4 linked regions of the Homo sapiens genome follow. The protein of the gene in region 2 interacts with the protein of the main gene of each other region in a biochemical or structural test. Each region holds a gene or a part of one and is shown on either strand. Other genes may lie near its edges. The genes, in order: SYNPO, MAGI1, LPP and LRP2.

Region 1 (7,499 bases), on a different chromosome or scaffold from region 2:
TACTTGTTGAATGAATGAATCCATGCACCACCTATACATATTTTCTTTAAATTTTGTTAGTGAAATGTCCACTTTAGCCTCTCCTTAAGCAGTAATATACCTGAGATCACAAGTGTGTTCATTATACCTCTTTTCCAATTCACATTTGAAATGTATATAACTATTAAGATTTTAAATATCAAGGTACCACCTAAAATCCTTTTTGCTTCCATTAGTGGTGGGGGCACCACACTCTAGGAACCACCAGTCCAGTCCAATCCCTCCTTTGGACAAATTGGATGCACTGAGGCCCCAAGAGGGTCAGGGATCAGCCCAGTGTCTCACCCAAATTGTGACAGGACAGACCCTGGAACCAAATCTCCTGACTTCTAGTCTTCTTTTCTTTTATAATTTGAGGGAAACATGGAGGGCAGGACTGCATGATTCAGCCTCTCCCTGGCAGGAGACTCCTCCTGTTGGAGTGGGGCCAGACCTGCCTGGTAATTGGTGAATGGCAGCAGAGGAGAGGGCCATGGCAGGGTCAGCAGCCTCCAGCACCCCAGAGCCATGGTGTCCTCCTCTGAGGGGGCCTGGGGTTCAAAACTGGTTCTGGCTAGAAGTGACATGGGGATCCCCTGTGCAGAGAGAACGCGGGGTGGGGGGTGTTGGGAAGGGGGATGGGGTTGGACTGTGTCTGATAATGAGCAGAAGAGTGAGACCAGACCCAGAGAGGGGTGGTGAAGACAGGGAGAGAGACAGATACAGCCCCAGCCTGGTCGAGTTACGCAGAGGTGGGTGTGTGCAAAAGCCTACAGTTAACCACCCCCCAATGTGTGCACAGTGCTTTATACTTTAGAAATCATTGCTGCATTTCATTTACTCAGCAGCTACTCTGCAAAGCAGATATTATTATCCCTGTTTTACTGATGATGAAGTTGAGACTCAGAGAGGTGAAGTGATTTACTGAAGGTAGCCCAGCAATTTGAATAGGATGCCTTGCTGAGCCATAGATGGGGGAAGAACTGGCTGCACCTCTGATTGGATTTGGTAAAGGAGGGCTGTCTGTGGGAGGAGCGGGCAGGCTGAATGGATTCGGGAGTGAGGGGCCGGCTGGAAACCCACAATCCACTCACTGGCCAAATAACCTTGACAAATCACAAAACCTTTCTTTTTGAGGCTCAGTTTCCTCATCTGTAAAATGGGAATAATGGTACTCCCTAACTCACAGCCTGTGAGGATAAAATAAAACAACATGATGAAAAATGATAACACTGAAACCGAATGCCTCGCACATTAGAAGTGCTCAGTAAGCAGCAACTTGAGTAATGAACATGATTGCACCCGGCCCCTGAGGAGTTTGCACACGGTGACCACCTGCCACGACTGAGGGATTCCCAGCGCCTTCTTTGGCAGCTGTGAGCGCGCCTGAGACCCCGTCTGGGGAACCCGCAGGGGTTGGGGGCAGGTTTGTCTGTCCCAGAGCCCCAGGCTGGTGATGACGCCTCCTGGGGATAAACCTCATCTCTCTGTTGTTTACCCCATGTGCGGTGACTTTGTCATTATCGTTCCTCCTGCGTTTTTTCTTTGAGTTATTTATTTTTCTGTGAGGAAGGAATGTGGGGAATTTACCACAGGGCGCTGTCCTTCACTTTCAGCTGGGCTGCACGGCGTCCTTTCCTATAAGAAGGAAGCTGCTGAGACAGATGGCAGGAGAGGTGGAGGCGGAGGGTCCCAGCTGGCTCTGTGGCCCAAGGAGTTGGGGGCAGTTATGTAACCCACCCGGAGGCCCAGGTTCTGGTCTCCGGGCATGAGCCTGGTAATGTACATAGCTCCTGTGGAACTGTGCCTAGCCCTCCCCATTCACCCCTGGCCTCTGGGCAAGCCCAGTGGGTGTGTTCCTCTATCAAAGTTTCCTTTCTATTCAGCTGGTCTTGATTTGGGGTATGGGGGTAGGTAGGGGAGTGGGGTGGGGGTTATCTTGAACCTCCTAGTCTCTGCTGAGCTATCATCATTGCTTAGAATGCTTCCTTATCTCCATCTTTCAAGAGCTAGGACATATGTCACCTCCTCCAGGAAGACTTCCTGGATTGCTTCATCCTAATTCATCTTTCTCTTAGGTTGTATGTTCTCCCCTCACTTCATGAAACATTCTTCCCCTTAGGTCTAACACAGTGATTTGAGATTTCATCTCCTTCCCTCACAAACGTGTTGCTCTCTCCTTCCTTCTCCTCCCACTCCCAGGAACCACCCTCTAGATCTTTGATCTAGAATCTAGATGAATCTTGGATTTAGACAAATCTAAAATTCATCTCCAGGGATGAATGGTGAAGCAAAATGTGAAGGGGGAGGCTTTGGATTCTGGAAGTGCTTGTCCTTTAGTAGTTTATTTAATCAACACAGTGATGGTTTCAACCCCTCCTGGGTGATGGCTTCTGCTGAGTCTGGGGACATTTACAGAGGACAGAGACCAGTCCTGGCCCTAGGCTGGCACAGGGCTAAGGGGAAGGACCACATCTTTGTGGCGGGCCCAGAGTGTGTCAGGCCCTGGGAAGAGTGGAGGGGACCCGCAGATGACCTAGGCCCTGCCCTGACCCTGGCAGAGGCACTGTTTAGGGGAAACCACCTCTTTCCCTGCCCTGGCTTGCCACCTTTTTGTCTTTTAGATTATGTGTTTTCTCTGGAAAGGCAGGGTATGATGGTTCTTTCTGTACTCCCAAGGCTTCCAGGGAGCTGGGGCTGGGGAGAGTGAAACAGCAGGAGGGGGCTTCGTGAGCACAGGCTTAGCTCACCAGGGTTGGACTGGAGAGGTGGAAGCCTGGGCTGTGATCCTGTGATCCTCTCTGTGAGCCCTCCCTTTTCAGTTTGCTGTATACCTGGGGCTCAGCTTGCCTCTCTCTGGGTTACCATCTCAAAGTTTCTAAAAATTGACTGATTATAGATTAATAATTACCCCAGTAGAATGGGCAAGAGAGAGGCTGTGGCTCCTGGCCTTTGGCAGGGCCCTGGTCAGCCAACAGGGAGCAGGGCTTGTGGTCTGCAAGGATAGAAGATGGGTCAGGCTTGCGCTGACTGTGGAGCCCTCATCTTAGCTTCCCCTTACCCATCCATCTCTGCCCTCCCTGATCCCGACCCACTGCCAGCAGAGAGAAACCAGAAGTTTGGCCAGGCCCAGCCTCCTTCCCCTGGGTTTCTGAGTTTTCTCAACCTGCCGTTTCCTCTGAGCTCTGTTCCTGCTCTGGGGCCTCTGGGCCAGGTTGAACAGGGGAGGAGCACTGATCTAGGAGTCTGAATGGATTGATGAGGGCTTCCTACAAGAAGTGGCCGTTGGGCTGGGCCTGGATGGGTGAGTAAGGAAGGTGAATTTGCTTTGTGGGGAGCTCTTCAGAAGGAAGGCGTCCAGGCTTGAGATCAGTCAGACCGCAGGGGCCCCTTGCTAAGCTGTGAGACCTGGGGTGAGTTAGCTGCTTCTGTGTGCCTCATCTTCCTTATCTACAAAATGGGGATAAGGGAACCTCCTCTATGAGTTGCTGTGAGGATTAAATGAAAAAAGGCATGTTAAACCCTTGGCTTGGCAGCATCTGGTGCTCCCAAAATGTTGGCTCTTGTCATTCTCATAGATTTCATGTTTATTCTGCAAGTGCCAATGGAAGATGTGGTGGGGACAAGGGAGGAATACCGAAGTGAAGCAGTAGAGGCCCCTGCCCTCGAGGCCGTTGCAGTCTCTGGGGGAAAATAGGGCCCAGACCCTCATTGCTACAAAGCAAAACACTGGGAGGGGGCAGCATGGCCCACGTGACTGGCCCTGCACTGGGCATTAGGCCAACCTGGGCTTGAATTTCAGCTCTTCCTCTGGCTGGCTGTGTGACCTTGAGCAAGTTGCTGCACCCCTCTGAGCCAGCGTCTTCTCTAATATGGAGATGAGGATAGTGCTGGCCTCATGGGTTGCTGTGGAAGTAAGTGAAGTAAGGCCCTGTCCTGCTACCTGGCATGTGGTGAGTATACCCTGAAAGATTACTTTTACTAGAATAAATAATACACAAGGTGGTGGTTATTAAGTGATGCAGACAGAACATTGGTGAAGGCTTTTTGGAGGGGGTGGTGGCATTCTAGGTAGGCCGGAAATCTGAAGGATTAGGGCATGTAGAAAGGATGTGAGACAGAGGAGGGTTCCCGGTAGAGGGGGTCTGTGCAAACGCTGCTTTGCAGGCAGGAATTCATTGGGCAGCTGTGGGAACTGCAAGCCACTGAACTCCCTCCACTGTTGCTGAGGGCACAGAGAGAAGGTGAGTGAGCTCTTGGGCAGGCCCCGATAGCAGGGGTTTGAATGCCAGGATGAGGACTCTCCTCTTGATCCTCCATGTCCTGGGGAGGCAGCAGAGGGTTTTGAGCAGGAGAGAGGCATGAGTGGAGCCCGGAGGGAGGAAGATGAATCTGGCAGCGTGGGGCGGGTAGATTGGCGGGGGAGAGACTGGGGGTGGAGAGGCCATTTAAAAGGCTGTTGCAAAATCGGTTTTCCTGATAAAGAGCTGGGCTGAGTCATCTGTGGAGGAGAAAAGTCACATCCAGCTCCTTCATGTTGCTGCCGATGTGGGATTTTCCTGGCTTCGTCAGCCAAGCAATTGGCTGCCTTTGCCGGAGGCTTTGAGAACCAAGGCTTGAAGGCCGGCAGGAGCATCCAGGGGGAAGCTTGGCTTCAGGGAGGACCTAGCAGAGTGAGTAAGATGAGCACCCGGAGGTGCCTTTGTGGCTTGGGGTATATGACTTAGGGCATGTGGCATCCCCCCTCTGATCTTAGTCTGTCCTCTGGGCATCAAGGGAGAGGTATGTGGTGATTTCTGCCAGCCTGTGAGTGGTGAGGCGGGGGCTGGGCCTGGGGCTCCCCACCCCATTTCTGTGTCTTCTCCCATGCCCGGCAGTCCTTCCCACCAAAGTCTAGATTGTTCTCCTCCCAAGAGGAGGTCTGGCAGTCTGCCGACCCCAGTCAGATTGCGCTCGCCATGACTCTGGGGATGGAGAATTCTCCAGGGCATGGAGCCTGTGTCATTTCCTCCTTTCAGTGGGAGGAATGGGGAAGGGGCTGGCAAGGTAGCCAGGCCATTACTCAGGCCTCTCCATTTTCCTGCCCCCAGCTGAGCCAGAGGTTGTGCAGTGGCCAGTCATTGGTTCCTTCCTGACCTCACCAGGGGGGCAGTTTACCCAGCCTGTTTACCCTTCCTGTCGCCAAGACCCCTGGACTACCACAATGGGCTGCCTTGAGCCAATCTCTATTCCTACCCCTGGCTCTCTGTCCCACCCCGCCCCACCTGACCCTGGCTGGACACTCCCATTGACGGCATCGTGTGAAGAAGCATTTCCTTGAATTCTCCCTGTCCTGACCTTCTGCTCTGGCCTCCCTTCCCCGGCCCCACCTCCCTCCTGTGGATCCTCCATCCACACGGGCCCCAGTGGTGGGCAGAACAAGCAGCTGTCCACAGTGGGTGGTAGGGGTGGGGGAAAGGGTTTGTCCCTTTCTACGCCAAACAAGAACTGGGGTCTTCTGACTCCCAACATAGTGATCTTCCCACTCTACTCATCTTTCATGCCTTATCAGTCCTTTCTACCTTAGTAAGAATGAGTTTATCAACTCTTCTCCTGAAAGGAAGAAGTGGAAGAAAGAAGGAGTTGTTCTAGGCAGCTGGGTTTTCAGGGGAGAAGACATTGCTGAGGGGCATTGATCACAAGATGAGGGAGCAGAGGGCTTTGCAGACCATCATCCAAGAGCACTGGAGCCTCTCTTGTTTCTCCTCTTTCCAGAGTCCTAGTCTGGAAGGAGAATAGTTAAGAGATTAGACTCAGAGCCAGACTTTTCTGAGTTTGGATTCCAGCTCTGCCACTCATAAGTTGTGTGACCCTGGGCAGGTCTCTCTGAGCCCCAGTTTCATCTGCAGAATGAGAAGAATCACAGGACTTATGTCTGGGAGCTGTTGTAAGAACTGAACAAGGTGGTGAGCATAAAGTGCACAGCACTGAGCCTGGGCTGCAGCAGGGGCTCAGTAGTGACAGCAGTCGTTGCAAAGCCCCTTCTCATGGCTGTGCTGGGGCTTCTCGCCTACTCCCCCACTTCAGGATTTACCCTGTTGGACCCAGGTCTCCTGACCCCAGGCAGCTTTTCATTGTGCCCGCCCTCCACCCCTTCCTCTCTTGAAGGCCTATCTTCAGGGCTCCTGATCCAGTGTCCAGGGTGGGTCTTTAAAGGGCTAGCACCCCAACTTGGCCCTGCAGAAGTTTAGGTGGGGAGGCGGTGGGGACATCATGACTTGCACAAGTGCAGGCCACAGCCAGGCCGATTGAGGGTTCAATGAGGTACCTGTCCCCTGTAGCCTTTGGCTACCTCCCCACCCCCACCTTTGACACCAAGAGCATGATCTTGAGCAGCTGCTGCCTGGGATATTGCCAGAGAGGGCAGCTCCCTAGTCTGAGGAATTTTAGATGGAGTTGCCCCCTGGTGCCCTGCTACGAGGGACTCTAGGGTGTCCCCCCGCCTCCCCAGCTTTGTTTGTGAAGGGTGGCGAAAATCATCTGGATGGCTGGCTGGATCTGGTCCAAACCTCCTGCTGAATTCCTTTTCCATGGAGTCACTGTGGGCTGGAGTGCGGGCTGCAGGAGCTTGCCTTGGAGGGCAGGGCTCTCTTACCTCCTGGCCTTTTCTGCCATTCCTCTTGTTCCAGAACAGTAGCTTGGGAGCAGTTCTAAGCTCAGAGAGGTGGTGGTGATGGGATCTTAGCGGCAGCCCAGGTTGTGCATGGAGCCTCACTGAGAGTCAGCTGACCTGGTCTTGGGCTCACATCCTCCTCTCTGACCTCTTCCTTGGCTGGGCCTCCCAGGCCAGCTTATTTCTAAAGGCCCTTCATATTCTGACATTTGAGGATTTTCTAAACCCATGGCCTTCTAGAGCCAGTAAGGAGAAAAGCAGAAAAATGCAGGGGCATTGAGAGGTCTGGAGTAATCAAACACTGAAGTGCTTTCTATGAGCCTTGCAAGGTGGGAACCGGCCAGCCAGGAGCCTGGTGCTCTCTGCAGTAACGTAGAGCCAGGTGTGAACAGAGCTCTACTCCTTCTGGCTCTGTGATCGTGGGCAGCTCACTTTACCTCTCTGAGCCGTAGATTTCTCATCAATAAAGTGTGCATAATAATAGTTTGTGATTTGTAGGTTTGTTTTGGAAATTAAATAATATGAGTAAAGTCTGTGTATAGGTGTACAGTAAGTGACCAATCAATATTAGCTACTATTGCTGCAACTGTGTCATAAGAAACACTGGCAGGACTAGAGATGTTTATCCTGACCCTGTCCCAAGGGGATCTGATGTATCTGCAAATCTCTGCAGGGCTGTCAGGCTGGAATGAAAGAGAAAACTTTTTGTTGTTGTTGTTGAGATGGAATGTCGCTCTGTTGCCCAGGCTGCAGTGCAGTGGCGTGATCTCGGCTCACCGCAACCTCTGCCTCCCTAGTTCAAGCGATTCTTTTGCCTCAGCCTCCCAAG
Region 2 (7,025 bases):
AAATGGAGGCCAAGTGAGCTCTACTGGATGAGAATGCTAAAGGGTTGTAGCACCTTGCTGATTCTAGCCAGTTTCCATGTGGATAAGTCATTCAGGGATAGAGCTGAGGTACATGAAAAGCCCACACAGCCTGCACAGCCCTTCCCCTTCTCCCATTGTATTCCATAGTAAGTAACAAATGTGCTTGGGAGATAACAAATGACTTTTTACCCAATCAGGAAGGTGGATCATTTTTGGAGTGTACATCTATAATCAATCCATTGCAATGGGAAGCAGATTCATATATCACTAGTTTCTGCAATCATCTGGGTTTCTATTGGTCTTTGCTAGTGTACCCAGAAGAGAGTGAATCCTTCTGAGAAAGTGACAACTGTGTTTCTCCATACTTTGCTGAAACCCTCAATGTCTGGACGAGACAGGAAAATCGAATGACTCTTAACTCAGATTTTAACCAGACTTTAAATCAAGCAACAGTAAAAATATTATTTAAAATTAAAAAAAATTCCTATGGGGATAGAGTAGAGAAAGAACACAGATGAGGCAGACTAGCATCTCATGTAGTATTTTTACTCCTTACACCTCTGTTTTTCCTAGAGCATTTTTACAGCCGTATGCTCCTTGTAAAAACTCTTAAGACATTCTTAAGACCATTCTGAGGCCCTTGCAATTAGTGCTATCCTATTCAAGACCTTTCGAAAGCCTTGCTTTGGCAAAAACTGTAGACTCTGTATGCTGTCCAGGGGTTCCTATTCAAATTTCTTTTCTTTCCTTTCCTTTTCTTTTTTTTTTTTTTTTAAGACAGAGTCTCGCTGTGTCACCCAGGCTGGAATGCAGTGGCACAATCTCGGCTCACTGCAACCTCCACCTCCCAGGTTCAAGCGATTCTCTTGCCTCAGCTTCCCAGGTAGCTGGGATTACAGGCATGCACTACCACGCCCAGCTACTTTTTGTACTTTTAGTAGAGACAGGGTTTCACCACGTTGGCCAGGTTGGTCTCAAACTCCTGACCTCAAGTGATTCACCCTCCTCGGCCTCCCAAAGTGCTGGGATTACAGGCGTGAGCAACAGCGCCCGGCTGCTATTCAAATTTCACGCAAATCTGATGTATGCTTTAAGTTGTGTATGCGTGATCACATTCTCAGTGTGGAAGTTGAAAGGGTTGAACAAATATTCCCAACCTTCAAAAGGGAAAAAGCTACCAAATCAACTCCATCTCCAATTAAGTCTTTAATTACCCAGAGCAAGAAGCTATAAAGCATTTCTGCACGTGAGGTCTGAGTCAGCTTTCACTCGCAAGAGAACAAAAACTCCCAGGCATGGTGGGAAACCCTGGGTAATTTCACGTTCAGCACTCACCAAAGGTCGTGCCTGCTTCGGGCCTGCTCACCGAGGACACGATGACGAAGCCGAAGCCCTCGTTCTCCCCGCGCCGGATCTCCACGTCGTAGGGCTGCACCACGGTGCTGACCACGCCGCTGCCCCCGCCGCCGCCACTGCCGATGCCGCTGGTGCTGCCGCTGCCCGAGCTCACCGTGTTCAGCGAGTTCTGGCTGCCCTGCGGAGTGCGCTTCTCTTCTGTCAGCGAGGCCGGCTGGTTGCTACTGTGATGAGAGGAGGCTGGCGAGGGCACCTCGTTCTCGGTTTTGGGCACTGTAGCAGAGAGATGCACGCGTACATCACCGTGTCCTGCAGCCCCTCCATCCTGCTGCCCCTCCCTCCTTCCAGCAACTCCTGCTAGAAATCAAAACGTGAACCGAGGGGAGGAGACAGCACCTGGTTTCACAATACCTGGATATACGGATTGAAAGCAGCTTCTCTTGACAAATATTAACCATTCAGTATCTACGAACATTGATCCCACCTAACACCAAATGGGACTCCCAAATAGCGTTTGTTGTTTATAGCATGCTATATGTCGACATCCACACTCAGAATCAAGTCTGCAGCAAGATCGGCCTGCTGTGAAATATTTCCCCATTGCACAAAGGGAAGGGCCTAAGCGTAGGTGAGGGCTACACCCGTGAAGACCGCCATCTTGGCTTCATAGATACAACCTTGGATGCACGTTCACATTGTCATTACTTTCCAGTCACATTTCCACCCAGCTTTTTCCATCAGGCGACAAACAGTAAGGTGATGGTAACGTTGAGGCTACCCGCCCTATGTGGGGTTCATGACAACACCTGTGAGACATACACATGCTTCTCTTCTTAGCTTCCAGGTGTCAACATCGACTCTGATCACAGAACTGGATACACTGGCCTCCTTCTGAATTTAGTCACCGTTCTAGTGTTACCATCAGACTGCAAGGTAAAGCACTCCTAAATAGCCAACACCGTAGGTGGAACCAACTATGCCAAAAAACAAAATGTGTGTTGTGTCCAAGTTTTGGATCAGACTGTATTTATTTCCAAAAGCTTCTCTTTTCATAGATTGTTTTAATTTTGGAAAAATAAGCATAACAAATTTTTAAACCATTTTTAAGCATACAGTTGAGTGGTATTAAGTGCATTCACATTTTTGTGCAACCATCATCATCATCCATCTCCAGAATTTTGTCATTTTCCCAAATTGAAACTCTGTACTCATTAAAAACTAATTCCCCTTCCTATTTCCTCCACCCCCCACCAACCATCATTCTGCTTTCTATCTCTATAAATTTGACTACCCTAGGTATCTCATATAAAGGGAATCAATATTTCTCCTTTTGTGACTAGTTCACTTGCATAATGTCTCTTCATAGATTTGACACGCCTTTTACACAGAGCTAAAAATCCAAAATATTTAAGATTTAAAAAAATAAACCTGAAACAACAAAAAAAATCACATTGCCTTACTATTTCTATTTGGGCCAGGGAAGCGAGATAGTTAGTTTTCATCTCATCTCAAAAACTCGTTCCAGCTGACTGCTTTTAGCTACATGGAATAGTATGTTAAGAAGGATTGTGAGGTCACAAACACACTGGAATTTAACATCTTAATTCTATAATTAATCATATACCATTTAAAATGGGTTATACTCTTTTTTTTTAAAAGAAGTTACCAATTAATTTTATCTGACAGGTATCTGTTTCACTAATATGAATGCCAAGAGAATTCATAATATTTCAGGTCATATTTCTCCAGTAATTCCACTGATAGAAGACAATCACCTCTGCTGCACTCTGGGTTCTGCCTTAAAGGTTTCAAGGTGGGAGCTGCATCCAAAGGTGAACAACCAAGGTGTGTTCAACGTGAGCTTTCAAGGGAAAGGACAAACACTCACACAATTCACTGTCTCAAAATGGCAGATTCTGATACAGCAGTAAACCATGAGTCACTAGAATGGCAAGGAGGGAATGCTAAAATCTGAAGGCAGTTGGAGGAAGGAGGAATTTCCAAGGGAAGAAAGTTATATTTGAGCTGAGCCTGAAAGGATATGTAGTATTTTGAGAATTAAAGTTCAAAGCTTATGGGCAGGAAGAAGGAATCAAAGCTGACCTAGAACTGGCCAGCTCTACAACTTTCTTGTAGAAAGAAAAAAAAAAAATCTTGGTTTAATACATAGGACAGTAAGAAATCAGTAACTTTTTTATGAGCTTATTTTGTAGCACAAACCCGATTTTTGTTCCCTTGATATGAAGCTACAACTCTTCTGACTTTCATAATGACCTCATTTGCTGAGGATTAGCATCAAATGAAGAGGATGGCTAAGTTCTGATTTGCAAGGAGATAGAAGGGAAGTAATATATATTCAACTAGCCTTCCTCTGGAAGCCTTTGTTGAACACATGCAAACGGCACATTAAAGTACTTTAGAATGACAGTAATTTTTGCAGGGTTTGAGAGAAGCAAGCCATCTGGAAATTCTGAGCTTGATCACATTTGCAAACATTTGCTAAAATAGACGCTCAAGGAGGCAGACACAGGAAGGAGGCCTTTTCTGTGAATAAAGTGACAACGCACTGTCTGAAGGAATGAATGAAATACATACCCGCAAAAACCACTTTACGCCGCACCGTGAGATTGACGTGGCCTTGCTTGGCAGCTTGTTGCATAAGCTGGACCACAAGCTGGTGTGATTTTCCAATTACTGGCGTCCCATCCACACAGATTAATTCATCTCCAGACCTCAGGCGGCCGTCAGTATCAGCAGCACCCAGTGGTACGATGTGACCAATATAAATCTGTTGAGTAATTGAACGATGGATGAAACATTGCTCTCCTATGTTTACTGTTACATCAATAGCCTTCACATCTCTGGGAACAATTCATTCATTCATGTCTGCAGGCATGCCGCAAACATTTATTGAGCACCCACTGTGTACAAGACATTGTGCTAAGCACTGCAACAATTCTTAAATGGTGGAAAGAGTATTTCTTGCTTAGTTTCCAGATGTTTATCTGTGGCCTATTGATGACTCACTCTCTTTTTCCCCTTTGCAGATATAAATTACTTTTCTCCCTTCATTATATACCCTATTCTTCTTTGGTAGCTACCTAAAAACTCTCTTTCCATAAAACTCTGCTAATTAAAATATTAATATTACTTTTATTTAAGGGTCTAGCATCATGCCTAGGAATAGGGAATCTGTAATAAATACTCTTAAATGAATGAATGAAGCAAAAGTTGGTTGGACATCTCCATTTTTGAAGTCTTTTAGCACCCGAAAGCAGAGCACTCTTTATAGTTAGTGTCTTGCTGTTATATTTGCCATTCACTAAACCTTAGCTAAAATATTTGTGCCTGCCTTGCCTTTCCAGCAGACAATAATGCTATAGCTACCTTTACGTGGCATTTATAGTTTACAAAGAACTTTGACAAAATAGTTGCTAAGAACATGAACTCGAGTCAGACCTTATTTGTCAGTCCCTCCATTTGGTAGCTCTGCGATCTTGGGCAAGTTAGTTAGCCTTTCTTTTCCTTGATGTGAAAACGGGATAAACTGGTGGGTTTGACGGATAAATGAGAGAATGTATGTTAAGAGCCTTTAGCACAGAACCTGGCACATAGTAAGCGCTCGATGAATAATGGCTGTTATTACCACAAGGAAATTAACGATACCTATTTCAGTTTTCTTTTCTTCCTTCAAAGGAACCCTGTTATGTTATTCTAAATTTATTCCAAAATGGAGGACACTGAGGCCCAGGGAAGTTCAATGTTTCTTGACCCTTACTCAGGGTTCTTTCTCAAGTTTTGTAAAGGCAGGGGTCTGACATTCTCCAATCACTGTCTCATAAGGCTTTGCGAAGTACTCTCTGCACACCAGCAACTCAACATACAAAGCCTACTACCTGCTGGCAGAGTGAAGGGACCTGGCCAGAAGGACCAGGCCACTGTGATATTAGGTGATGCCTATTCCTGTTTTGCTTTCTGTTTTCATCTCCCTTGGGGGAAAAGGGGTGGTCTACAGAGGCAGCTCCCACCTTTCACAAACACTCATACAAACTTTTTAGAAAGAATCTAGTCTCTTCTTCCTCAAGACAAAGAGAGCTCCACAAAACCCAATGAGAAACCCACACTACTCAAGATTAAAGAGTCAGTGTTGCATCTAGCTGGACTTAAATCTTGGTGATTTGTCACTGTCGCCAATTTGCTTTGAAGCCTTAGAAAAATATGCTGGGAAGAGAGACAAGCAAAAGACTCACAGGTTCCCCTGGTTCATTTCCACCCAGAATCCTAAATCCAAATCCAGTCTCTTTTCTCCAGAGGAAGATGTCCTGTTCCTGGTAATCTGGAACTGCAGAGAGGGGAGAAAAAAGAGAAGGATTATTTTACTGATAAAAGCAATGATACCCCCAAGATGAACACAGTTGCAGGACAAGAATGGTGGTGCTTGATCAGATGGAAGATTTTCAATATAGGCAAAGAAACAAAATACTCTGAACAGGTGAAATAATGGAAGACACGGGGATAAACAGTGGGAATAGTCACTGAGCCCTAAAGTTCTTCACAGGACCCATCACTGTTTGATAATTCCGAATCAAGCCCAAGCCATGATCCTTAACTACAAATAGTCAGCATTAACTGCTTTCCTCAGTATTCTTGCAAGGAGAATTAAGTAAATTAAAATTATTATGTGCCACACCACAAAGCAGGTGTCCATGTCCAAGAACACTCAGGCTAAGTCAGAGTCACCTCTGAAGCCAGATCTAAGGATTCGGAAGTCATGTTAAGTCACCAGATGTTTCCTCTACTAGAGGATGAAAGAGAACAGCTTGGTTTAAACAGACTTTCTGATTTATCTTTAAGTCACTTTCTTCTTCCTTAAAATAATTAAGGCTAGCAATGCTAATAGGCTTTGTTAGATCATTTTTGCCAAAAATTACTCTAAAACATCCTAGTATTTCTGCATACAGTCAGTCCTCCATATCTGTGGGTTCTGCATCCTTAGATTCAACCAATCACAGATAGAAAATTTGTTAGACCTACAATGGTTTTAGCTGTGATGAATACGTACAGATTTTTTTCTTCTCGTTATTCCCTAAGTAATACAGTATCACAACTATTTACATGGCATTTGCATTGTATTAGATGTCATAAGTAATGTAGAGATGATTTAAAGTATATAGGAGGTGGGGTGCAGTGGCTCACAGTGGCACTCCCAGCACTTTGGGAGGCCAAGGCAGGCGAATCGCTTGAGCCCAGGCATTCAAGTCTGGGCAACATAGTGAGACCTTGTCTCTACAAAAAATAAAAAATGAGCCAGGTATGGTGGTGTGTGCCTGTACTCCTAGCTATTCGGGAGCTGAGGTGGGAGAATCACTTGAGCCAGGGAGGTTGAGACTGCAGTGAGCCATGATTGCCCCAGTGCACTCCAGCCTGGGTGACAGAGTAAGACCCTGTCTCAAATAAATAAACAAACAACAAACAAACAAATAAATAATATAGGAAGGGGTGTGTGTGTGTGTGTGTGTGTGTGTGTTACACACAAATATTAGGCTATTTTCTAGGGATTTAAGCATCCATGGATTTTTATATCCTTGGTGGGGGATGCGGGTGTCCTGAAACCAATCCCCAGCAGACACTGAGGGGTGACTGTACAA
Region 3 (6,869 bases), about 120 Mb from region 2:
AGTGCAAAGCACTGTACATTCATAAACGACATGATGAACAATTTTATCAGATTTAAGCCATCAACTATAAGATGTGCCATTACCAACTTAGGATGAAAAACAACTGCACAACTATGGTACATTGTAATAAGACAACCACATTTCAGTGATATTAAAATGTGAAAAAAGTGTGTTTTACAATTGATTCGATACAACGTATTTGTCTCAATAAAATACAGGAATCTGCTATAAAATTTTCATATTTGCCAATGGTACGTAATAGGTATTCAGTAACCTATGTCGAGTAAATGAACAAGAACCAATTGATAATATTATTTTTCTTGGGGGGGTGGGGCGCAGCAGAGGAAATGGAGTCTCACTCTGTCACCCAGGCTAGAGTGCAATGGTGCAATCTCGGCTCACTGCAACCTCCTCTTCCCAGGTTCAAGTGATTCTCCTGCCGCAGCCTCCCAAGCAGCTGGTACTACTACAGGCACATGCCACCACACCCGGCTAATTTTTGTATTTTTAGTAGAGACGGGGTTTCACGATGTTGGCCAGGCTGTCTTAAACTCCTGACCTCAGGTGATCCACCTGCCTCGAGCCTCCCAAAGTGCTGGCATTACAGGCTTGAGCCATCGTGCCAAGCCAATAATATTCTTAGGCCAAATTATTACCTCTCTCATTGGAATTGGGCAGCAGGGGGCTTCTCGATGCCAGTACCTCCCCTCTAAATCATGTCTCAGCCTGCTCAAAACCCTCAAATGATGAATTTAAGATATATCCAAACTCCTTAGCCTGGCATTTTTAAGCCCCTTTATAACCAAGTTTCCTCTCCCGTCCATCATTTCCTGGAACTGTCTTCACCAGAATGTGTCACTCTAAGAAAGATCCTACTCAAGTCCCAGCCACAGCAATCAGCTCATCAGCTCAGCTTCTCCTCCCTCTGCGTACACTCAAAACCAACTCTAGACCCATGCTGCTTACAGAGAGCCTGCCTCTGGGGGGACTGCCAGACCCTAAGGCCCCAGGCTTTTACCCCTACCATTCAGAATAGGTAATCCCCTCTGGAGCCTACATTCTAGACTATAAAGTTTTGGGTGTTGGGGTTGGGGCCTGCATTGTAGAAATTAAATGCAAAAATGCACACTCTCCTTTGTTTGTTGTTGTTGTTTTTTGTTTTTTTTGAGAGGCAGTCTCCCTCTGTCGCCCAGGCTAGAGTGCAGTGGTGTGATCTCAACTCACTGCAACCTCTGCCTCCCGGGTTCAAGCGATTCTCCTGCCTCAGCCTCCCGAGTAGCTGGGACTACAGTTCCCCGCCACCACACCCAGCTAATTTTTTGTATTTTTAGTAGAGACAGGGTTTTGCCATGTTGCCCAGGCTGGTTTCTAACTCCTGAGCTCAGGCAATCCGCCCGCCTTGGCCTCCCAAAGTGCTGGGATTACAGGCGTGAGCCACCGTGCCTGGCCCACACACTTTTTCCTTTAACTGCCCCCTGGTGCTGGCAGGAACTGTGCAAGCAGAAAAACTGGTGACGAAGTGGAGAAAACCATATTGGATGTCCTAACCCCCCACTGTCCACCATTATTGACCATAGGCTCTAGGTCTAGCACCCACCTTCGTGGACCTTTACCTATTCTTCTATCTATAAGAGTTGAGGAAGGGGGAGGATGGGAGAGGGAGCTAGATGCTTTGTAAAGGTGCCTAGCCACACTTTCCCCTTCTTCACTTTAGGCTTTCTTAAAATGCACATGTGCAGGGAAAGGTAAGCCATTAAGTCATCAACACCTTAGTGAGAGTGAATTTTACAGGAAAGGCAAGAGATTTAGTAAAAGGGGAAGGAATGGAAAGAGAAAGGGGACTGGAAACACAGTTAAGTGAGTTTGGTACTAGCAAAAGCCCCAGAGAAGACCCTGAGTTCTCGCTAGTTGTTTTGTGTTGGGGGAGGGAAAGCAGTGGATCCCTTCTAAGGGAAGGGAAGCCAGAGAGATTTTTCAGTTCTCCTACGACTCCGAGGTTCCAAAGACTCTGCCCTGTCCAAGCACCCAGGCACAATTCCACTGATTAGCTCATCTCATATCACAACCTCCCCCATCCCCAACCCCTTGCCTCCAACTAAAGAATATTTATACTTTCATCTCCATTTCCCACACTACTTAGTCTTCTCTGGCCCACGGTTCCCTCGAAGAGATGTCTTCCTCCAAGCCGCTAGCTGGCTTCAGGAAACTCCTCAACCTCCAAAAACCCCATTCAGTGCAGGACTCTCCAAAAGGCCGTCCCAGGGACCAGAAAATCAAACCCCCTCCCTGGAACTTCCTTTAACTTTGTCCACGCCTTTGCTCCAGCACTTAGCATTTTCTACCCTAGGCCAGGTTTGACTCCCAGGTTCAACTGAGTTCCTTGAGGGCAACGTCCAATACACCCAGCACAGGGTCTGCCACACACAGGGTGCTAGAGAAATGCTTAGAGAAAGGGAACTTAAGTCCGGAGCCAACTATTTGAATTATGGTCTGGCCTCTAGTAAATAACTTCCGGGCGACCCTCCTTCTCTCTGGGCCTCAGCTGCCCCAACTGTAAAATGGGAGGACTTGGAGGACTGGGTCTAGGCCCTTTCCGCTGTGACAACTGTGATTCCGCGAAAGCTCTAAGCGGATGGGCGTGGCCCCGCCCCCTGGGCGCCCAGAAAAGTCCGGGCAGGGGGCGCGCAAGGCTCCAACCCCGCCTAGCCTGGGGTCGACGCTTTTGGAAAAACTCTGGGTCCCCCTCCCCCATGGCGTGCACCCCGTGATTGGGCCGCGGCCGGCACTTCCGCACAGCGGGCCAGGCCAGAGCAGGGCGCGCGCCCTGCGCTCTTGCCACCCCGGAGGCGCTCGCGCCGGGGGAGGGCTGGGGGTTCCCGAGGCGCCCGCGGGTGGAGGGTGAGGGGAAGGAAGGATTTGCAACAATACCTCAGGGAGGAGGCAGCCGGGGCAGCGGCGGTGGTGGTGGCGGCGGCGGCGGCGGCGGCGGCGGCTGGAGGCGGAGGCAGAGGCAGAGGAGGAGGTGCCCGGGCACTCCCCCTCCCATTGTCCCCAGCCCCGGACAGGCCCGGCCCCGCGCCCCACACTGGCCTCCTCGAGCGCGCCGCCCGCGCCCAGCGCCCCACGCCCCGCGCCCCGGGCCGTGCAGCCAGCCCTTACCTTGCAGCGCCCGGCTGTCTCCCGATCGCTAAAGCTACTTATCCCGGGAAAGCTCGCGCGGGACCCGGGAACGAACCCACAGACAAAAAGTGAAACTTCGGCAGGGCTGGAGCGGCTGCTGGTTGGTGCCTTTCCCCCTCCTTCCTCCCCACCGTCCCCACCCCCTCCCCTTGGTCTCCCGTGCGGTGCCCTGAGCGCTGGAGGCTGACGTCAGGGGCCTGAATTCCTGACTTTGCCTGCACGCATTTGTCCATGTAAGGTATGGGAAGGCGTGTGCCCGCGAAGCCGCCGCGCAGAGCTCGCCTGGCGGGGGAGGGGAAACCCGCAGCCGGCAGTGGCTTTGCCAAAAGGTGGGCGCACTGAGGGCATTGCATTTCCTGGGAGGAAGAGGAGGAGACGCGGGAATGCAGGGAGCTTGCAAAGGAGGAAGAGAAAGAGGGAGATGTGGAGACTTTGCCCCTGCTAGAGGAAGAGGAAGGAGACGTAGGAGGAAGCGGCCGCGTCAGGGGGCTCCTGGAAAATGGAAAAGCCTGCGTCTACTATTAAGGCGTCAAATTAGGGCACTGAGCTTGAGTGGAAGAGATCCAGCCATGAAATCCCCTTCCAAGATTTTCCTCGTGAGCCCCGCCCTGGATTCCCAGCAAGACTCAAAACTTACAAGGTGTCAGAGCTGGCAAAGACCAACTTCCAACCCGTCCGCTTGGCACGTGAGGAAACTGAAGCTCTCGGAAGAGAAATGACTTGTACAGGGTCGTCACTCAGCAGATCGAGGAGCGGGCCCAGGCGCTCTGCCTCCCACTTGGGTTCCCGCCTCCAGGAAGGGCCCTGGCTCCCTTTTAGCCCTGAGCCTTGAAGCAGGTTAGATGCCCGCGAGCTGTGCGGACCACCCAGTGATTTCTACTGCTCTTGGCCCAGAGCCAGTTCCTGGAAGGTCCTGGTTGACAGCGAGCCCTGAATATCAATGACAATCAGTTGCTTCAGGGCAACTTCCTCTGTCCTGTGCTCAAATAAATGAATCCCTGGAGTTTAACGTTTACTTCTGAGCCCCGCCCAGAAAGCTTGCTCTGTGCTTATAGCTTCAAAAAAGTCTGCGAACGAGATGAACTGGTTTGAATACAGACAAGCCTGTCATTGGAAGTTTTGAGTTGGATTTTTCTTTCCCCTCTGACATCTGTAAGGGTGAACGACGATGAGAACCACCACTTAACTGTGTTAGGGGATTATGACGCGCAGCAGCCATGGCCAGGAAAGCATTCCATACCCTGAGACTTCCTTTCCTTGCACTTCTCTCCTATTAATATCTAAAGTAATCCCTCACGTTAGCACATAATGAAAGCAGTCTCTCACCCGGCTATTGCATCTTCAGGTGAGTTAGATAGGACAGAGCGTAGTCCCCCCTTTACACCTCAGACAAAAACTTAAGAAACGTTACTCGCCCAACACAAAACAACTGACTGACCAAGCACCTGTCTTCCCCTCCTCCCATCCAGGTCTCCTGACTAATCCCTTCATCTTTCCATACCTGGCCCTGACCTCTAGCAGGACCTAATTCCATTCATAACTGTTGAGAGTACACCATGAGCTACTGATTCATAAAAACTCCAAAAAGTGGTTCTTCTGAGGATGGACTTTAGTGGGATTCTTTTGACCAGGAATTAAGGAAATAATGTAAAAACACATGTTATTGGATTTATTAAGCACCTTCCTTGTGCTTAATAAGTGTTTGAATTCAGACATTTCAGGGGTAAGACTACTTAACCTCTGTGTTCCTCTCAACTATCTAATGTACACATACAAAAATATGAACATGGCTGGGCGCGGTGGCTTACACCTGTAATTCCAGCACTTTGGGACGCCGAGGCGGGCAAATCACCTGAGGTCAGGAGCTCGAGCCAGCCTGGCCAACATGGCAAAACCCCATCTCTACCAAAAATACAAAAAACTAGCTGGGCGTGGCGGCGAGCGCCTGTAATCCCAGGTATTCCGGAAGCTGAGGCAGGAGAATTGCCTGAACCCGGGAGGCAAAGGTTTTAGTGAGCCGAGATTGCGCCACTGCACTCCAGCCTGGGGGACAGAGCAAGACTGTTGTCAAAAAAAAAAAATATATATATATACAAACACATATATATACACATATATATACATATATACACATATATATACATATATATACACATATATATACATATATATATACACACACACATATATATATACACACATACATATATATATATGAAGGCAGTAACAGAGAGATAAGGTCGAGAATAACCACCCATTCCACAGACTAATAAAGAATTTATCTCTTTGCAACTAACATAGTTTGAAATGGGAGATACGGGCTCTTGGAGAGAGTTTTTTCTGGGGTTCTGAAAAGGTCAGATCCTATCAAAACACAATCCACTCACTCAAACATTTCAGCGTACTCACATTCTGAGTACTACTGTTTAGTATGAAAAGAATTCCAGTGTTACATGAAGTAAAAATGGATTATCTCAATCCTCATGGAATATAACGGGACTTGACCAGCATTTCCTTTTTTTTTTTCCTTCAGTAACTCACTTATAAGGAATAATAGGGTCCTAATGAGGATTAAGATTTAATAAGGTGTAATTAGAGTTGTTCATTTCTTCCATCATATACATTATAAGAGTACTGTGCCGGATCCAGAAATGCTACTAATTATGTTGAAACTGTTGTATGGGTGTGTTGGGGAAGTCACTGTGTTTCTCCTCCTGAAATGTTTATGAATTGCTCAGGTGAGCATGGTGAGCATGGTGTTAGCATGAACATCATATAAAGTTAACTACAAAAGATAATTCTGACTCATGAGGAACTTCCCAAGAGTACAACCACCCAAGTCATAATCTGGATGCTTAGTGAACTGCATACAGTGTTGTCGTCAGTGCTAACCCTACCAAAAGCCTCATTCCCATTTACTGTTCTGGTTTCTTTCGTACTCTTACTTTTCTCAACCTCCTGTTACAACTTTCTACGTGCAGGCGCTTGCGTGAAATGGAAAGGTTGTATGAATTTGCACTCAGTGGTAGAAAAATACTGGTTTACCAATTCAGAGGCTAAAACACAGAATTTCAGGTGTAGTGTGGGGTCGTTTGGGCCAAGGATAGCACACTGGTGGCCTAAAGGCTACCAGCAGCATTTTCATGGGTTCAGTAATGGCATAAAAGACTTTTAGGCAAGCTGGGCTTGGGTCCTGCCTTTCGTTTGCATCCATTACAGTCCTGTACACGTGGCCTTTGTGTAGCTCATGCCAGTCCTTATTTGGAGTTTTCATATACATTTCACTTAACTCTCACAAGACCCCTTCTGAGGTTGGCATTATTATTTTTTTATTTTATCCATGAAGAAACTAAAGCCCTAAAGCCCAGGGAGTTTAAGTACTAGCTCTGTGTTAAGAGCTGAGTAAGCTCATTTTTTTTTTTTTTTTTCTTTTTTTGAGGTGGAGTCTTGCTCTGTCGCCCAGGCTGGAGTGCAGTGACGTGATCTCTGCTCACTTCAAGCTCCACCTCCTGGGTTCACACCATTCTCCTGCCTCAGCCTCCTGAGTAGCTGGGACTACAGGCATTCGCCACCACGCCCGGCTAATTTTTTTTTTTTTTTTTTTTGTATTTTTAGTAGAGACGGGGGTTTCACCAGGTTAGCCAGGATGGTTCGATCTCCTGACCACGTGATCTGCCCTCCTCGGCCTC
Region 4 (7,025 bases), on a different chromosome or scaffold from region 2:
ATCTGAGAGTGAGCATTGATTAAAGAGGAAAGAAAGAAATGACAGTAATTAGGATTACATGCCAATCACAGCACTTTAATCACAGCAACACAAATCCCTGGACTTCATTTTTTTGTGATAAGTTCTGATTGAAATTAGAAAATATTAAAGTTAGAAAAATTAATGAGCACATTACCAACAGAACCAAATTTAATTTGACAATCTAATGGCCTCAATTTAGTCTCATTTTTTGAAACAAAGACATAAAAAGAAGTAAAAACACATAACCAAGTACAAAGGATTTAATCAGAAAATTATCCAATGGTGATGTATTTGAATTCAATTATGGTTACCCCCTACACAGATGTGAACTCATAGAGGAACTGAAATCCTTCCTACAAAGCTACACAGTGACTGTGACAATGGTGATGCACACCAGGCTACTGTTCAGAATGAGTTTATGGCCAGTAAACTGTGGTCAGGAAACTTACTGCAAAGTGGGGACTCATCTGTCCCATTGGGGCAGTCAAAGATGCCATCACACACTACACTCAGATTCACACAGATGTTATGGCCAAGACACTGCCATTGCCAACTAGGACAGCGAAAGGGCTGAGTAGGGCAGTCCTTCTCATCACTCATATCCCCGCAGTCATTGTCCCGATCACAGAGCCATGCCCTGTGGATGCAGTTTCCGTTGTCACAGTGGAAATATGATGAAGGGCAAGTCTTGGGGACACAGGCATTGTGCTCATCAGATCCATAGAGGCAGTCTGGATGCCCATCACATTCCCAGAAGTTCGGGATGCAGATACCATCTTCTTGGCACTGAAATTCATCTGAGTGGCACATACCAGGAGGCCTGGTTGCTAGAAGGAAAACATGGGGTAAATCGGCTTGTGAATGTAATTTGTGATCCCTTTTATAGTCTAGACTCAGAGGAAATGATTTTGGATCCAATAGTAGGTTTATAGTAACAACTATGACCAAATTAATATTTAAGGCTAAATGATATAGAGTCTTCTCCCACACTCTAGTACATAGAAATATTTCTTTGTGGCAGCTAGTGGCTCTGACAACAAACGAAGTACAGAACGCACAACTGCTGACTAGCAGATGAGTACCTGTGTCAAAAGAACATCCTGTTTCCTTTTCCTGTGTTTTTAATGTACTTCCAATTGCAGATTCAATAATAAAGTTTATCTATCTTTCTATGAAAGAATCACCAGAACATTACAATAGAGCTTAAATAGCTATGATTACTTTGAACTTCATGTGTTTCATATCATGTTTGGGTGTTATTATTTTCCCTCAGATGAACTATACCTAATGAAACCATCACACACTAACTAAAGATGATGGTAAATACTCAGTTCTTTGCAAACTTTCCACTATTCATCAAGCAATCCTGGAGAGATACGTAAGAACTGCTTCCCTATTTGACAAGGGTAAACCAAAACTCTCTACCAGGGATCTCACAAGGCAACAGCAAGCCAGCGGCAATTGACAGTTTAACCTCAGCTCATCACAGAATTTTATGTTTTTAATGTGAAACAGGAAAATTAGTGATTAGTAATTTCTAGATGTTGTGCAAACTATAAAGTATATAAGCATTTTATTTAACTTTTCTTTTTAATCCATGGCTTTACACACTACCTTTCTGACGCAGGAGGAGAATTCATGAAAACTTACTTTTTTGGTCTAAAACACCATTGTTCAAACAAATGATCAACTCACTGATGAGTTTTTGCAAGTCTAAAATCCATTTAAAACAAAAAGTGGGCAAATAACAAATCATGTGAGTATAGGTTTCCAGTCTGTGAAGATTATAGATCCATCAGAATTATACTGTATGAAGTCCTACTTGAATCCTCCAACTAGAAGAAATTTCTTTTCTCTGAACCTCCATAGAATTTTATCTGTGCCATTTCTAAGACCCTTGTAACTGTCTATCTTGCTTAATTGTCTCTTGCCTTCTATAATCTCCATAGATAACATCTTAGCAGATATTCAACACATAATAGCACAAAGAATGAATTCATCAGAGTCAATACTAAACACAGCTCCATACCATTTCTACACCATGATATGACTTCTCTACTGAAACTTAAAAGAAACCAGTAAAATATCTTTATATGGAGTAGAGCCTCAAAAGTTTAAACCTACTAAAGTGGGAAGTCCTAAGAAAAACTAAAAGTGAAAACAAAAATATCTAAGAAATATTTAGCCCATCTAAGAGACTATTTGAAGTGTCCATTTATACAACCACTTGATTTGTTAATTACACATTATATGGCAATGTCTACTCAATTTTACTGTATGTTCAATACCACATTCCTTTGAGGATACTTTCCCCCAGTTTGTCTGAGTTAGGGAAAATGTGTGGCAATATCAATATCAATACTGGCAAAAATGAAATGACCCCTTTGTCTGAAACATTCTGGGTATGTGTTACTTACGACAGCCTGCTTCATCCGAGTTGTCACTGCAATCAAAAACACCATCACAACGATTTGTGACGCCAATACATTTATCCCCACTGGCACACTTGAATTGAGAAGCAGTACAGTTTAATACTAAGAATGAAAGAGAAAAGCATTAGAAATTAGCTCAGGGCTAAAATGACTAAACACTGAGATTTTTCTTTTTTGTTGTTATACTTTAAGTTCTGGAGTACATATGCAGAACATGCAGGTTTGTTACATAGGTATACACGTGCCATGGTGGTTTGCTGCACCCATCAACCCATCATCTACATTAGGTATTTCTCCTAATGCCATCCCTTCTCTAGCTCCCCACCCCCCAACAGGCCCCGGTGTGTGATGTTCCCCTCCCTGTGTCCATGTGTTAACACTGAGATTTTTCTAAATAAACATTGTGAATAAAAAAGAAGGCAATGCACTTACCACAACCAACCTCATCAGATCCATCAACACAATCCTTGTCACCATCACAGACAAACGATAGGTCAATACATCGATGATTGGGGCAATTAAACTGACTAGGTTGGCATGTCTCTGTCGAATCTAATGTCATCCGAAAACAAAACCAACAAGTTTATTTCCTGTGCAACAAGTACCAGAGCCAAACTAAAAATGGCTAAATAGCTACAGAAGTTATCTCAATTGTACATGGGTTCAAAATTCTTTTGAATCAGCCACACTATCAAAGTCAGCTAAGCAAAAGAACTCAAAACTAGGATAGGTTTTAGAATTGAGAATAAAAAGATTACAGGGCAGAGTCAGAAACTGTGATTACACCTTGGAAAATAGACCACATTCAGAAAGTGAGCATCATGTGCTTGGACTTGGACTACATTTCATGAATACTATGAAGTCCATGACTCTAGACCAAAGCCAAGCAATGGAGCCCAATCAGGCAACAAAACCAGCATGACCCACATGCCTAGTAGCAACAGTGTGTAGACAGACCCCCAAAACTGGATTTAAAAGTCTGAACAGAACAATTCTAAAAACCAGGGTCCTACCTTACTGTTAAGACCATAGCCTTGGAGTCGGATGCAGTGGCTGGCCCCACCCACAACATGAAATTATATTAAATACACACTTATAGGGTATGAAAGCTAGAAGGGATCTTAAAGCTCATCTATTCCAAATGATAGTGACTTGCCTAGTCAGGCAACCAGGACTAGAACTTAGCCCAGGGAACTTTGCTCCATCTTAAACTATTATTGAAGACATGAAATAAAACAACAAGCTAAAGGAAAGCAGAACTGGCAAGATGGAAAACAGGTGGATAAGATCAAAGGAAATTTAAATTTTCTGTGCCTCTTTATTTTGATGTCTTTTTGCTTGTACCAAATGAAAAAGAAACATCAATAGCCAAAGGTCTGGATATATCTATATGACTTTTAGTATTGTTTTAAATATATAAATAGATAGCTGAGGGATTTTCACTTTTTCAATTCCTATCTGAATTGAAATGTTTGGCATCAGAGGCAGTCCTTGCTTTGCTTCCATAGAACTCAATATTTGTAGGTGGACTCTAAGAATCCCATGTGCAGGCACGTGCCTTTGTTCTTGTAACCTATTGACACAGAGATTGACAAGTGGAATAGAAGTACTAAAGAGACAATGAAAATTGCATGAGCCTTAGAGGAAAGAATGCAAGGCCATTTGGTTGTTGAAGTCTATTTACGAGGCTGACCAACCAAGGGAAACCAGCTCAAAACTTACTGCAGTTCTTTTCATCAGATCCATCCCCACAATCATTGTCTGTGTCACAGACCCAGTTCTTTGAGATACACTGGTGATTATCACAGGTGTATTGGGTGTCAAGGCAGGAAGCAGGTGCGTGGGTGGGGCAGTTGTGCTCATCACTGCCATCCACACAGTCGTTGCGTTTGTCACAGCGCCAGTGTGCAGGAATGCACTCCCCATGGCCACAGGTGAACGCCGAAGATGAACAGGTATTATCTACAATAGTAACAAACTGGTCATGAAGACATTTGTTTTTACAGCCTTTTAAATGAGTTCTTGCCTTATAAAGGCTCAGTTCACCTTTTTTAATGGAGGCATTGTATATAATAAGGAGAAATGTTCATCAAGTGATGTCATCATCACTAACATCATTATTGGCTGGCATTTATTTGGTATTTATCATAGAAAAGGCATTTTTCTAAGTTATGCACCCACACACATCATATAAGTTCTCTTTAAATCCTCACAAGAATACTATAAAGTACATATAATTGTCTGCATTTTACAGATAAGGAAATTGAGTCTTTGAGAGATTTAGGAACCTGCCTATGATTCACGCTCTGGTTGGATTCACTCTAAAGCTCATCCTTAACTTTCAAGCTGTTACTTCCTCCAACCACAATTTCAAATTCAGACTATAGAAAGCTTGAAAATATGTCATATGAAAAGTGCAAATAGATAAAATATTAAGGTAAAATGCTGTGCTCTTAGAAACAAGAAGATAATACACAAAAAGATGAAAATTTAAAAAATTTCAGAAAAATGTACAAGTGAGCACTTTACTCTTGCAAATCTGTCACTCCTCTTTCTCTCCAAAAGAAAGGTTATTATTAGTATTAACTTCACCTTGATAGAGATTTCTGAGATTTCAACTGTCCTCTATCTTTTTTTTAATTTGAATGTAATACTTTTGCCTTCTGCAATAGTGTTTATTAGGCCCCAAACTATATAGACTAGATTACCGTCAAAAGAAGAATATAAAGGTTAAGACCACCATTTCATTGTTAATTTATTTTACTCTAACATGGGAGAAAAGGAATATAACACATGAGATTTTCCAAAGGCTATGATTGCAAGTAGTTATTCTGTGATACTATTCTCTCGGTTGCTAAATGTTAGGTCTACTTTATTTTTGGTTTTTGTTGTTGTTGTTGTTTGTTTGCTTATTTTTTTGAGGCAGGGCTTCACTCTGTTGCACAGGCTGAAGTACACGGCACAGTCTTGGCTAACTGCAGCCTCAACCTCCCCAGCTCAAACAACTCTCCCACCTCAGCCTCCCAAGTACAAATTTTTGTATTTTACAAATTTTGTGAAAATACAAAATACAAATTAGCTGGGTGTGGTGGCATGTGCCTGTAGTCCTAGCTACTTGTAATTTTGTTTTTTTTGTATTTTGTAATTTTGTATTTTGTAATAGTCCCAGCTATTTGTAATTTTATATACATATTTTTTTCTGAGCTCATCTATTTCTTTTTTATTTATTTATTATTATTATACTTTAAGTTTTAGGGTACATGTGCACAATGTGCAGGTTAGTTACATATGTATACATGTGCCATTTTATATTTTTTGTAGAGACCGGATTTCGTCATGTTTCCCAGGCTGGTCTCAAACTTCTGGACTTAAGCAATCCTCCTGTCTCGGCCTCCGATTACAGGCATGAGCCACCTTGCCTGGTCAGATCTAGTTTATTTCGATTTGACTTTTTGAGGAGTTTGCCAAGACATAATGACTGCATTGGTCCAAACAGCCAATGTCAAGGAAAAAAATTGTTGAAGATAGTCTAAATCAAGGCCAGAAACCATCCATAACATTATGAATGAAATTTCTTGCTTAGCTTCCTAAAAGCCTTCAAAGTGCATGTTAAGAATCTGAAATTCTAAAAGATATTTTTCCCATATAAATAGCCCAAGCTTTTATTTATTTTCTTTAAAGCCCACCTCTACTCTATTCATCCCAGGAAATATCGCCAGTGCATAGCTACTTACTAAGTGTGCCACATAGTTGCTCATCACTGTTATCATGACAATCATCGACTCCATCACAGAGATAGTAATTGGGCACACATCTGCCATTTTTACAGGGGAAGGAAAATAAGCCACACTGCTCTGTGGGTGGTTCATTGGTTGGGTCCCCCTCGCATGTCAAGTGATTGGAAGCCAGCCTCATTCCATAAGGGCACCCACACACTCGCTGGAAATTTGGCACCGGGAAGCAGAAGTGGCTGCAGTCACCGTTAGGATGCGTGGGTTGATTACAGGCGTTAGAACCTGCAAAAGCAAAGCCCCGAGGGAGTCAGTCATGTACATTTTCACTAGGTAGGTCACGGGTTTGATTTGTGAAGGAAAACAAACAGGACAAAACATTTTTCAGACCCAATACTAAAAAGTAGCTTCCTCTTGGAAATCAACCCGCCAAATACAACATTCCATTTAGGTATGGAAAAGTCCCAAAATGTGTTTTTCCTGACAACATGTTTAAGGCTAGCAGCATTGAACAGAGATTTCAAGTCTTACACTCTTAGATTATGTGAACGACAAGAATATAAAACTACCAGGAGCTAGACCTTTAAGTAATAAGTACTTAAAGAGAACAGGAGCCACTGTAACAAATAAATAAACCCATACAAAAAAATAAAAAAAACTGGGCAATCTCACTCACCAGTCTGGATGTTGACATCATACGATTTCAAATGCAGTATGTAAGCAATGCCACTTCGGATAACTGTCATTTCTCCACCATCTGCTTTCCTGACTCGAATAATGGCACCCAGTCTCCAGTCAGTAAAAAATAAATGCTCTGAAAAGAAACATGGGTAGATTAGTA

The links.
Region 1: the proteins of MAGI1 (region 2) and SYNPO form a complex in vitro, tested with the Homo sapiens proteins (one study listed by BioGRID).
Region 3: the proteins of MAGI1 (region 2) and LPP form a complex in vitro, tested with the Homo sapiens proteins (one study listed by BioGRID).
Region 4: the proteins of MAGI1 (region 2) and LRP2 form a complex in vitro, tested with the Homo sapiens proteins (one study listed by BioGRID).

What each region holds. Positions count from the first base shown.
Region 1 is NC_000005.10:150,636,164-150,643,662, forward strand, and holds the start of SYNPO (synaptopodin), read left to right. Parts: upstream 1-4,496; 5' UTR 4,497-4,691; intron 4,692-7,499. UniProt on the Homo sapiens protein: Actin-associated protein that may play a role in modulating actin-based shape and motility of dendritic spines and renal podocyte foot processes.
Region 2 is NC_000003.12:65,377,905-65,384,929, forward strand, and holds part of MAGI1 (membrane-associated guanylate kinase, WW and PDZ domain-containing protein 1), read right to left. Parts: intron 5,720-7,025; coding exon 5,628-5,719; intron 4,166-5,627; coding exon 3,973-4,165; intron 3,223-3,972; exon of another isoform or gene 3,145-3,222; intron 1,651-3,144; coding exon 1,357-1,650; intron 1-1,356. UniProt on the Homo sapiens protein: Plays a role in coupling actin fibers to cell junctions in endothelial cells, via its interaction with AMOTL2 and CDH5. May regulate acid-induced ASIC3 currents by modulating its expression at the cell surface.
Region 3 is NC_000003.12:188,150,312-188,157,180, reverse strand, and holds the start of LPP (lipoma-preferred partner), read right to left. Parts: upstream 3,025-6,869; 5' UTR 2,929-3,024; intron 1-2,928. UniProt on the Homo sapiens protein: May play a structural role at sites of cell adhesion in maintaining cell shape and motility. In addition to these structural functions, it may also be implicated in signaling events and activation of gene transcription.
Region 4 is NC_000002.12:169,240,518-169,247,542, forward strand, and holds part of LRP2 (low-density lipoprotein receptor-related protein 2 precursor), read right to left. Parts: intron 6,999-7,025; coding exon 6,861-6,998; intron 6,470-6,860; coding exon 6,188-6,469; intron 4,416-6,187; coding exon 4,176-4,415; intron 3,006-4,175; coding exon 2,886-3,005; intron 2,556-2,885; coding exon 2,439-2,555; intron 849-2,438; coding exon 471-848; intron 1-470. UniProt on the Homo sapiens protein: Multiligand endocytic receptor. Acts together with CUBN to mediate endocytosis of high-density lipoproteins. Mediates receptor-mediated uptake of polybasic drugs such as aprotinin, aminoglycosides and polymyxin B.